Homo sapiens: one gene and its partner. The protein of the gene in region 2 interacts with the protein of the main gene of each other region in a biochemical or structural test. Each region holds a gene or a part of one and is shown on either strand. Other genes may lie near its edges.

Region 1 (4,212 bases), on a different chromosome or scaffold from region 2:
TCGCTGGATAACCTTTAAAATTATACATTGGGTCGGAATCTCGGGAGTCAGATCTCCAAACAGCTCATGCCAAGAGCTTCCAGCAGGGGGCAGCAAGGCACCGTGAGCACTGGTTCCGTAACATCCCTCGGCGTCAGACGAAAACACCCTCACTTTCCACGTCAAGTGGAACTAGAACAAATCCTCCTTTGCTATCTGTGGCTCAAGAATGTTGTGCCCAGGCCAGGCGCGGTGGCTGACGTATGTAATCCTAACACTTTGGGAGGCCAAGGTGGGAGGATCGCTTGAGCTTGGGAGTTGTAGACCAACCAGCCTGGGCAACATAGTGAGACCTTGTCTCTGCAAAAAATAAAGTATTATCTGGGTGTGATGGTGCACACCTGTAGTCCCAGCTACTTAGGAGGCTGAGTTGGGAGGATCACGGGAGACCAGGAGATTGAGGCTGCAGAGAACTGAGATTGCACCTCTGCACTCCAGCCTGAGTGACCCAGTGAGATCCTCTCTTAAAAAAAAAAAAAAAGAATGTCGTGCCCTTAGAGAAAATGAGATTCTGAGCCAGTTAATGATTTGTCTCCAGGAAACCCAAAATTAAACATGAGAGAAACCCAAAGTTTCTTCCAAAATTACATTTATTTTTCTCAATTCAGAAAAGTCTCAACACCACAATTTATCTGTTTAATGTTTTCATTTACATTTGGCTTTATCCCAAAAAGGGTTTAACAGTGTCACCAAGTTACCAGGTCTCTGTTTCATCATATTTACACAAGATGAAGGAAACTCAATCTGTTCGTATTTGCCCCAGGTAATAGGTTCTATGTAGTGACAGGCATTTCACTATTTGACTTAGTGTTTGCCAAAATGAAGTAAGGGGAATTGGGTCCAGAGCTGAGGACAGATCCATTTGGAATGAAAGCATAATAACCTTGAAGTTATTCCAGTGACAAAAAATGATCAGTGAAAGATTTTCTAAGAGCAAGCAGGAATGAGGAGGCTGGCCCTCTGGCCAGCATGAGATGGGGTCTTAGGAACAGTTTGTCATTCAGTAACCTCCTAACAAACACTCGGGCAAGCCACTTCCCCTCTCTGAGAATCAGTTTCCTCTTCTGTACATAAGGGGAGAGGGTCAGTCAACCATCTTAGATATGGGAACTTAAGGGGACTTCATGGCCCTGCGGGAAAAAAGCTCAAATGTGTTTTTTTGCATTGGGCCTGCATGGGACGTAAGTGTTTCGGGAGTGAGGGGAGGCCTTGGAAGGGAACTGCTATTGCTAATGATGATTAAGAGATGACTTCGTGTGGGAACCACCACTCAACCCTTGCTTGTCTGTACAATCTATTTCCAGCCTCAGCCCCTCAGAACAAGGGGTGGTTTTTATGGTGTCTAGCCTGGAACTCTCTGTCAGTAAAAGCTGGAAGGGGCCAAAGGTATCTGCTCAGTGTTCCCCCTTGCACAGCCCTCACTGCCCCGAGCACCTCATGCTTACTTGACAAGCTGCAGTCTGGAGTATCAGACCAGCCTGTGTCCCATCCCTGAGGAAGTACACGGCCGCTTCAATCCCCACTGGGGGCACCATTTTAAGTCCGCTCAGAAAGAAAGAAACACACAGAGAGTATCAGACAAACACAAATTCTTTTGGTTTTAATCTTTACTTCCAATCCCAAACAATCTTGTTTCTTTTCATTATAAAAGTACTAAACAAACACGGACAGGAGAGGAAACTGACATTTGCAAACGATGTACCTTCAACAGGCATCTCAACAGCCCCATCACCAACACCTGTGTGCAAGGCATAGCCATCACGCAGAAAAGTCTCAGGACTCAGAACTACACCATAAATGCAGGATCTTTTTATTTCATATAAAAATGATCAATGTGAAAAAAGCCAAACTGTATGCTGGTTTTACAGACTCCGACCCTTCCTGACAGTCTTCTTGTCTGGCCAGGCTGGGGGCCCAGCATTCCTGGAAGGGAGAGACAGCCCAGCATCTCAGTATTTCATTGGGACAACAAGCTGGATGTGGCAGGGAAAGCTGAGAGCGCCAAGGTCCCCTTGCTTTATCCCAAGCTCGGAGGGACGCAGCCTGGCATGGCTCTGGCCTAGCAGCCAGGTGACATGGCCAGGCACCTTCCTGTACAGGCACTGTGGGCTCCTGGCCCAGGCTCACTAGAAGGTCTTCTCTGTGGTGCCTACCTAGGGAGCTGTGATCAAGCCGAGCAGCCGTGCAAGGCGTTTCAGTCTGACCTTTTCATCAGATCCCCGCTCCAGCCCCTCGGAGAAGGAAACATCAGTCCACAGTGCCATTGTAGGATTTGTTGAACTTGTTGAAGGTGAAGTCCACAGTGTGCGTGGAGATAGGCTTTCTGTATAATGGATTTGAAGCCTACAGAACACGGCGGGGAAGAGGATGAGGACACATGTTAGCTCACACACTCAAACCGACAGACGCAGGCCCTAGGATCCCTTCCCAGGTCAGCCCCCTGCGACAGCAGCAGGCAGAGCACTCAGGAGGAGACGGCCGTGGGCTCTAGGACAGCTCTGTGTTCCCCAGGAAAGCCATCGCCTTCTCTAAGCTTTCACTATCCACCTCTGGAAGGAGGAGTTGGGTCAGAAGGTCTCTGAAGTCCCTTCCAGCTTTAACAGAAACCAAGCCCAGGTTCAGCAGAAACTGACTGCGCTCAGTCCTCTGGGCATTTGCAGTCTGCCTGGGGTGACCAGACTGCAGGTGTGAGTGTTGTAATGGACCATAAGAATCTGAGCTTTCCTGTTGGTCTGTGCTCTCTCTGAGACTGGTCAGACTCTTCCTGAGGCACGCCCAGCGCCTCTGCCCCCATGACCTTCCTGACCTGGGTCTGGAACAGGGATCTGTGCAGCTCACTCTGCACTGGGGCTGTGCAATTCTCTCTCTCCAGAACTGGGCACAGCGTTTCTGGTGTTGATTCTTTTGTTTTTAATGCCAAAGACATTAGTGAGCCTCTATTGCTAACATACCGCTGAACTCAACCACGCCTCTGAGCTTGAAGTCTCCTCTGCTTCCCATTTCCCACGTGCTTACCATTTCATAGCGGGCCCTGGATCGCTCGCTCTGAAACTTTGCAAACTCCCTCCGGTCGTGGATGGTGACAAGCAGCTTCCAGATAGCCAGGAGTGCAAGCCCAACAAGGAGGATGCTACCGACCACAGCCAGGAGGATGGTCATGGCGTTGGGGGTGTTTCCACACTCTGGGGGGACCAGAAGCATGGTAAGCAAAGCCACTAGCATCACCATGCCCCTCTCACGCAACTGCAGGCATTTCTGAGATGAAAGTTGCACCCCTTCCAAAGGCCTTCTCCTCGGCTCTCCCTTAGATCCTCAGGAGGGTTTCCCCAATGTACAAAAAATGAAAGATTCAAAAGGGACAGTGACTGTTCTAAAGTCACACAGCAAGTGTGGCAAAGTCTAGATGAGGGCCCTGGGGCAGGGCTGCCTTTCCCCTCATGGGCAGCACCCACATCCCGCCTGGCCCAGTCTCCATTGCAGGATGCTGGACCCGCTCAGCTTTCGTGTACATGGTTTCAGGAGCAGACTGGGCAGGCAGGAGGTACCATGAAGCCACATGAAGCCACTTCCACAAGGTCTGGGCTGGGGGCCAACATTTGTAAGCCTTTAGCGTGGTGTCCCTTGGAGTAAATGTGCTTGTTTTCAAAGAACCTCAGACACAGCATTGGAAACAAAGCCTCATTCTTACAGGCGTGCATCCTAGGCTGGTACCACACTTCTCTCTGCCTCTGGCCTCAGGAAGGCACATTATGTGGTTGGGCTCAATTTGGAAAAATAGTTTGCAGTGCTGTCGATTGAAGAGAGCAAATCTTTTTCTGCTCCACCCCTGCCTCCCTACCCCCAAGAAGAATGTAAGGGGTGATATCAGATATTCCAGTTACTCCAAGGCAAAGGCTATTGGTCCCTGGGTCCAAGCAGAGGCAGAATGTTGGTATTTGGATTAAAGCTTGACCTCTTCAGTGGTGCTGGGAGCTGAGCATGGGAGCAGCAGGAATGTTGAACCCAGTGCTCCGTTGTCCTTGGAATCCATGCTGGGAAGCAGCAGTGGCCCCGCCCAGGCTGTGTGTGGAGCTGGATGCTCCCTGACTTGAGTGATACCCTGCCCAGCCCTGGTGGTCTAGATGCCCTGCACCCTCCCTGCAGAACACAGCAGCTCCTTGCTGCCTTTGGCTG
Region 2 (7,294 bases):
TTTGGACTCTACCACTATGTAATCTTGGGAAAATCACTTAGTCTTCTTGGTTTTCCTCATCAGAAAAATACCCAATTCACTTTAAAATTATTACATATATAGCTTCTCAGTTTTTTTTTTTTTTTTTTTTTTTGATGTGGAGTCTTGCTCTGTCACCCAGGCTGGAGTGTAGTGGTGTGATCTCAGCTCACTGCAACCTCCGCCTCCCAGGTTCAAGCGATTCTCCTACCTTAGCCTCCTGAGTAGCTGGAATTATAGGCGCCCGCCACCACACCTGGCTAATTTTTGTATTTTTAGTAGAGACGGGGGTTTCACCACGTTGGTCGGGCTGGTCTTGAACTCCTGACCTCGTGATCCTCCCGACTTGGCCTCCCAAAGGGCTGGGATTACAGGCGTGAGCCACTGTGCCTGGCCGCTTCTCAGTTTCTAACAGTATTTATCTGGGGGTAAGGACAAGGATAATAGGTGGATACAAGCAAAATAATTATGTTATATGATCCAAGTGAATAGTAGTCAGCTGTGTAAATCCCACCAGTATCCTTTTATCTATGTGTTAGTAACTTTAAGGGAGGAAAAGTAAGACAGGCTATTATTAAAGAAAGAGCCCACTCTTCCATGATATTTAAATATTTATTTAAGTTTAAAAATAATCTTCATGGCACCAATGATTTTATGCTAACTACATACTGCATATGTAGAAAAAAGTACATTGCTTTGAAGGAAAATGTAACTTAAGAGTTTTTGGCACACAGAAGGTTAACAACTATATATTTTTAAATGTATCTAAGAAATTCACATTTGCAGGTAGTTTACCCTCTACTGCTTAAAGATGCAGTATGCTATTCTTTAGTAAGAGTTTTATTTCCTGATAGATGAAGCTATGAAAACCATTGCTTTTTCTACAATGAGATAAACTAATTTTGAGAGAAAATGAGAGACATGTTAGAACACAGTATAACCAGGTTAAAAACTTGAACAATTTTTAAAGGTGGAGATATACCAAAAAAGACTAGTCACCAATCAAAGGAGGTTTATTATTCAAGCACTATTTGAAAAGCAAACTGAAGGAAACTTTTCTATCCATATTTTCTGGGATGAGCCCTGGAAAAAAACAACCCTAAAGTTTCTGTTTACAGAGCAAAATTTAGCTGTTAGAAATGGCATAGACTACTGTACTGTTAGAACTCTAGACACAAGGAACATACTAGGATATGGAATACTGCATCTGTCTCTAATGTGAATATGAAAGGTCAGAGTTGAGGCTATCACTCACTGCATAGAAACACCAGATTCTACAAACTGAGGTAGGAGCACTACACTAAAAGGTAATCTTCTATGTTGCATAAGACAGTAGATACCAGGTGGACACCAGCCCCCTGTCTCCTGACAGCCTTTTCATCTCTGGGTCTACTTTTCACGTTAGTCCTGTGCTAAATAAAGCCTTTGCTATGTAGATGACAAGTGGCAGTGGCTAGTTGATTTTAACTGACCCCTAATCTCTACTAGGATCTCCTTCGGTTTGTATTGTCACTCGATAAATAGATGTTTATAATTCTGCCTAAATTGTTGCTGGTATGAAAATGGTCAGAGAAGCCCTCTTCCCTTCTTAGATTCCAGCTGTGTTTTAGCATTCCAGTATTTGATCTTGCCCATTTGGCATCAGACATCTCTTTGCTGGTTAGTTGTTCAAGCACCCTTTAAACAAGCAACCCTAGTGCCTCCACTGGGAAGAGGTCCCAGATCTTTGATACATGTCAGGCATGGAAACAGAGCTGACTGACCCTCTTCTGCTAACATACTGGTAAGGATCAGTTTTATTGTCTAGAGCAGGATTGGCGTATTATGGCCTGTAGGCTAAATTCAGCTCACTGTTTTCATAAAGTTTTATTGGAACACAGCCATGTTCCTTCATTTACAAATTATCTGTGGCTGTTTTTGTGCTGTGATGGCAGAATTGAGCAGTTGTGACACAGTATGGCGTGCTAAACCAAAATATTTACTGTGTAGCACTTGACATAAGTTGATTGACCTCTGGTCCAGATGAAAGGATGTCTTTAAAATTATGCAAATCTCTCCCTAAGAACCCCAATTATTCCACAGTTGTCATATTGTAAACATGGACATGGTTCTACCATCTCGGGGGACAAAATAGGGGAGGTCAAGTCTACAAGTGACTTGTTCTGTTCTGCGTTTGGGGCTGTCCAATTAGGGTATCAGCAGCTGCTCTACTTTTGTGTGGGTCCAGGAATATGTCCATTGACCACCCTTAAATAAGCCCTCAAGCCCCAGATGACTTAGAAATCTCTCCCTGAGATGAAAACAGGATCTTGTGTGTGATTGGTTTTAGAGTTGAAGAGCTTGGGCCTAGGATCCCACACTCGCCCTTCATATGCCTGTGCTGCGTGCTTCGAGGACTTCCCTCTGCAAGGATGGTGATGCTTTCCTAGAACTTATGCAGAGGATGACCCTAGGGGGCAGCATTTCTACATCTAAGTGTTGGTCTCTGCCACGGTCACATTCTGTGTTTTGTAGGCATCTCTTAGAAATCTATTTTAAAAGATTCTTTTCCTGGTCCCTTCTAAGGCTGTTGATCTTGGAATTCTATTTTCTGAAGCTTTTCATTCTCAGGATCAGTTTCTTTCTTGCATCGTTTAGTTCATCAGGCTCTATTTTCTTAATCCATAAAGTAAAAACAAAATATGAATTGTTAAGAAAATAACATTTCGTTGTTAAAATATAAATTGAAATAGTCTTTGGGTCAAGGGGGTGTATATAAAATAAGCACTGCTATCCAAATCTCAACAGTCTCTCAGGTAACTTAACTCTGCTTTCTCTTAACTACACTTTGTCCAACATTTCTGACAGAACTATCTATCTCTGGTACCACTGAATTCGTTTAACGCCCCTGGAGCACTATAAAAGTCTTGAGGTTCTTCGGAAAAAAAAAATCACGTTAAGTCTAGTTTCATTATACAAAACTATGGTGATGCCCACTAGGCTCTAGACTAAGGGGACAGACTTACCCCACCCCTGATGCTGCTGTTGCTGTAGCGGTGGTCCCTTCAGATGCCCACTCTGCTCAGATTTGAAAAAACAAAAGGAAAAGAAAATCCAACTCAGACCATCATAAGAAGCAACTTTCCATTTAATCATTCTACATGGATGTTTACTTTTTTAAAAGTTCTGGCTGGCAAAAAAAACAAACAAAAAACTAAACAGTCCCCATTGTCCAGATCCCTGGCCTGCCCTGCTGAGGCTGCAGTGATGAGTCTACTGGAACCCAGTGGCACCAGCAGGAAAAGCTCCTGCAGAATACAGAGGACAGCAGCTCTCTAGTTTTCAACTAGTGTCCCCTCTGCTAGGTGATACTACTGCAATAATCAGTAATAGTAAAATAAATTATTTTTATTTGATACTTCAAAATAATATACATCTATGAAAAATCAAAATTCAAAACCAAAAATTATCCTGCAAATTGGAAAGATGAGAAACAGAGTCGCTGAGCCTTTCTTGAAATAACTTCTGAAGAAAATGAGTTTTCCCAGTTTGTTTAGACAGGGCATGAGCCTATCCCTTTCTTCTTCTGGGAAACACCCTCCTAGGCTGCAGTGGACTTTGAGTCATGAGAGGAGGACTTGGTATATGTGCCGATGGTTCCGCGATGGGTCCCATTGCTGGGAATGGGTAGCCGGGTTCCTTGGTCCACCTGGCTAGTTTTTGGGAGGAGTCATGCCTTCTCAGGTGTCAATGAGCAGGCTCACCACTGAGCGGATTTTGCAGGCAAACCATCGCCTGAGGGGACAAAAGTATTGATAGTGGAATTGTTCAAACTCGGGGGTCTGGCGGATATCACGGAAAAAGGCAATGTCAAGGTCAGACTCGGTAAGGATGATCAGGAGGAGGAGCAAAACAAAGAGGAGTCCCATGGTCACAAGGAGCAAACGGAGGACACTTAGAACAAACTTATTCACCTGTTCCTCCTCGGGCCCGCTGTGCCCCTGACACAGGGCCCTCAGCTCTCCCCCAAGGGCCTCCACCTCTGTAGCAGTTGGGGTGCTGGCTTCAGATTCCTTCTCCTCCTCAATGCTGCAGGTGGCTCCATTGATCTGCCGGGAAAGCAACATCAGCTCCAGGCTGTGCTCAGCCACAGGGGTGGGCAGCACGCTGTCTGCAGGGCTGTAGGCCTCGTCTGCAATCACAGCTACTCGCTCATTGCTATCTGTCCGGCTGCTTCTCACGTGAGGCAGGAAGGTGTCCCCATGGGAAGTGGAACGCACTGGTGTGGAATGGGCACTGTCCCGTAAGGACTCTAGGCCTAGAAAGGCAAAAGGAACATGAGTAGGCTGTGTCCCAATGCACCCTTTGCTTTCCAGTAGCACCCATTGTGTTTTATTGGGTACCATTCTGCACACCCACATGACCAGCAGCAGTAGCCACTGCACTCTATTTTGATATATCGAGAAGACGACAGGCCGGGTATGGTGGCTTACACCTGTCATCTCAGCACTTTGGGAGGCCGAGATGGGTGGATCGCTTGAGGTCAGGAGTTCCAGACCAGCCTGGCCAACGTGGTGAAACCCCATCTCAACTAAAAATACAAAAATCAGCCGGGCCTGGTGGCACATGCCTGTAATCCCAGTTACTTGGTGGGCTGAGGCAGGAGAATCGCTTGAACCCGGGAGGCGGAGGTTGCAGTGAGCTGAGATCGCACTATTACACTCCATCCTCGGCAACAGAGTGAGTAAGATTCCATCTTAAAAAAAAGAAAAAGGCTGGGCGTGGTGCCTCATGCCTGTAATCCCAGCACTTTGGGAGGCCAAGGCGGGCGGATCATGAGGTAAGGAGTTCGAGACCAGCCTGGCCAACATGGTGAAACCCCGTCTGTACTAAAAATACAAAAATCAGCCACGTGTGGTGGCGGGCATCTGTAATCCCAGCTACTCAGGAGGGGAGGCAGGAGAACTGCTTGAACTTGGGAGGCAGAGGTTATAGTTAGCAGAGATCGTGCCACTGCACTCCAGCCTGGGTGACAGAGCAAGACTCTGCCTCGGGGCGAGGAGGAAGCCAGGTGTGGTAGTGCATGCCTGTTGTCCCAGCTACTTTGTAGGGGGGCAGATTGCTTGAGCCTGGGAGGTCAAAGCTGCAGTAAACCAAGATCACACCACTGCATTCCAACCTGAGCAACAGAGAAAGACTGTCTCAAAAAAAAAAAAAAAATATATATATATATATATATATATATATATGTATGTATGAAACAAGAGAAGGCACAGAAATCACAGTGGCCATTTTAGAAGAGTTTTTCTTTGCTTTTTGCTTACGGTTTTGGCCTAGTTTGTGTGTGTTTTGAGATGGAGTCTTACTCTGTCGCCCAGGTTGGAATGCAGTGGTGCAATCTCAGCTCACTACAACTTCTGCCTCCCGGGTTCCAGCGATTCTTGTGTCTCAGCCTTCTGAGTAGCTGGGAATACAGGTGTCTGCCACCACACCCAGCTAATTTTTTTATTTTGAGTAGAGACGGGGTTTTGCCATTTTGGCCAGGCTGGTCTAGAACTCCTGGCCTCCCAAAGTGCTGGGATTATAGGTGTGAGCCACCGCACCCAGCCCCTAATTTGTTAAAGATTCTGCCTTTCTTGCCTTTGGTGTCCTGGGCCTAGTTTTTTTTTTTTTTTTTTTTTTTCTTTCAGTCTTTCATATGATTTTATTTTCTTCCTTCAACCATAATAATATGATATCCAAATTTTGTCTTAACTGCTGGGTCTGTAAACACAGGCTTATCCATCACACTTATAGGCAAGGCAAATGCTGCTTCTTGAAATGGTCCCACCATGGACCCTCTGGTCATCCAACCCAAGACGCCCCCTTGCCTGGCTTTATCTTCACTATATTGTGTGGCCACTTCATTGAATCTCATCCCAGACTTTAACTTTTCCATGGCTTCCATGATTTTGCCATGTTTTTCCCATAGAATGTGTCTGACCTTTACTGCATTGCCACCACCTTTGGGACCTTGAGCCTTCTTGTCAGCACTGTCACTCCCAGAGGCTGCACCCCCTTTCCCCGCTTTTCCAGAACCACTTTTTCCTTTGGGCGGCATCTTGGAAGCTTGTTGTTGAACTCTGAACTCTGGGCCTGGTTTTTACCCCAGTTTGAAAGAATCTGAATTCCAAACTACCCCTGATGCAGAGCTGGGACCACGGTTTGAGTCTCAAGTCTGCCTGTTGGGTGGAGGGCTTTAAGAGGCAGGAATGGGCCAGACACGATGGCTCCCATCTGTAATCCCAGCACTTTGGGAGGCCAAGGCAGGTGGATCACTTGAGCCAAAGGGTTCAAGACCAGGCTGGGCAACATAGACACTGTAACTATAAAATTTTTAATAAAAGAGAGGTAGGAATGGGGAGAAGGGGAATATGTCATGCCTAACTGGGTTTCATCAAATACCGAATATCCTTGTAAAAACCCAGCATACAGCATCTTGAGCTTATAAGGTCAATATTTTTGGATTTCTGCAGCTGCTCTCAGTCTCTTCAGCCTCCGTTCTAGCTGTTCTGACTTTGTGGAATGATGGGGTAGAAACTCTCTCTGCTCTTCTTGAGGGGGCATGGGAGTAGTCCCTGGCCAGCTCCCTCTCTTTTCCTCTGAGAAGGAGCTGGGTCTAGAATAGGCTGAAAAGCTCCCCTATCTTTAGACACTTCAGAGCACAAAACAGTTTGAGAAGATCTTGTTGCGGGGGTGGATTTCTCTTACATTTGGTAGGAGGAAGGGGTATTCTATCCCCTAAAACTACCCATTATCTCTTCTCTCTTCCCAAGGTTCTCACAGGACTCAAGCCCTGGCAGGGAAAACAGGAGCTGGTTACACTCTCAACTGAACAGCAGCCACCCAGGCCAGAGGCTTTGGGCATATAGTGAGTGAGCGCGGCCCCCATCACAGTGCTCCCAAGGAAATGGCTTCTTGTTTTAGGCTCAATGTCTGCATTTTCCACTCCTGGCCATCTTGGTGATGCTGGTGTGGTTCTCTCTGCCTTTGTGACCTATGACAAGAAAAGCCAGTCCCCTTCTGTTGCCCTGAAATAGTCCCTGACAATCCCAGACTGAACCAGATTCCCAGCTCAGTAAAGGTTTTACCTAAGTCAGGTTGATTAGGGAGTTTTTTGGTTCAGGGCTAGCTCCAGAAGCCCAAAGGGTCTCTTTTTTCCCCTTCTTCCAGGACATGAAGCAGTCCAAAGGTCTCTCTTAAAAAGGTGTTAGTAACCTTTCAGAAGCAGTGTGTCCCATCTTCCTTGGCTCCCTCA

The links.
Region 1: the proteins of FRMD5 (region 2) and ITGB5 form a complex in vitro, tested with the Homo sapiens proteins (one study listed by IntAct).

What each region holds. Positions count from the first base shown.
Region 1 is NC_000003.12:124,761,337-124,765,548, forward strand, and holds the end of ITGB5 (integrin beta-5 isoform a precursor), read right to left. Parts: intron 3,222-4,212; coding exon 3,055-3,221; intron 2,383-3,054; coding exon 2,287-2,382; 3' UTR 612-2,286; downstream 1-611.
Region 2 is NC_000015.10:43,870,148-43,877,441, forward strand, and holds the end of FRMD5 (FERM domain-containing protein 5), read right to left. Parts: exon of another isoform or gene 5,659-7,294; intron 4,316-5,658; coding exon 3,738-4,315; 3' UTR 3,076-3,737; coding exon of another isoform or gene 3,001-3,075; 3' UTR 2,674-3,000; coding exon of another isoform or gene 2,660-2,673; 3' UTR 617-2,659; downstream 1-616. UniProt on the Homo sapiens protein: May be involved in regulation of cell migration. May regulate cell-matrix interactions via its interaction with ITGB5 and modifying ITGB5 cytoplasmic tail interactions such as with FERMT2 and TLN1.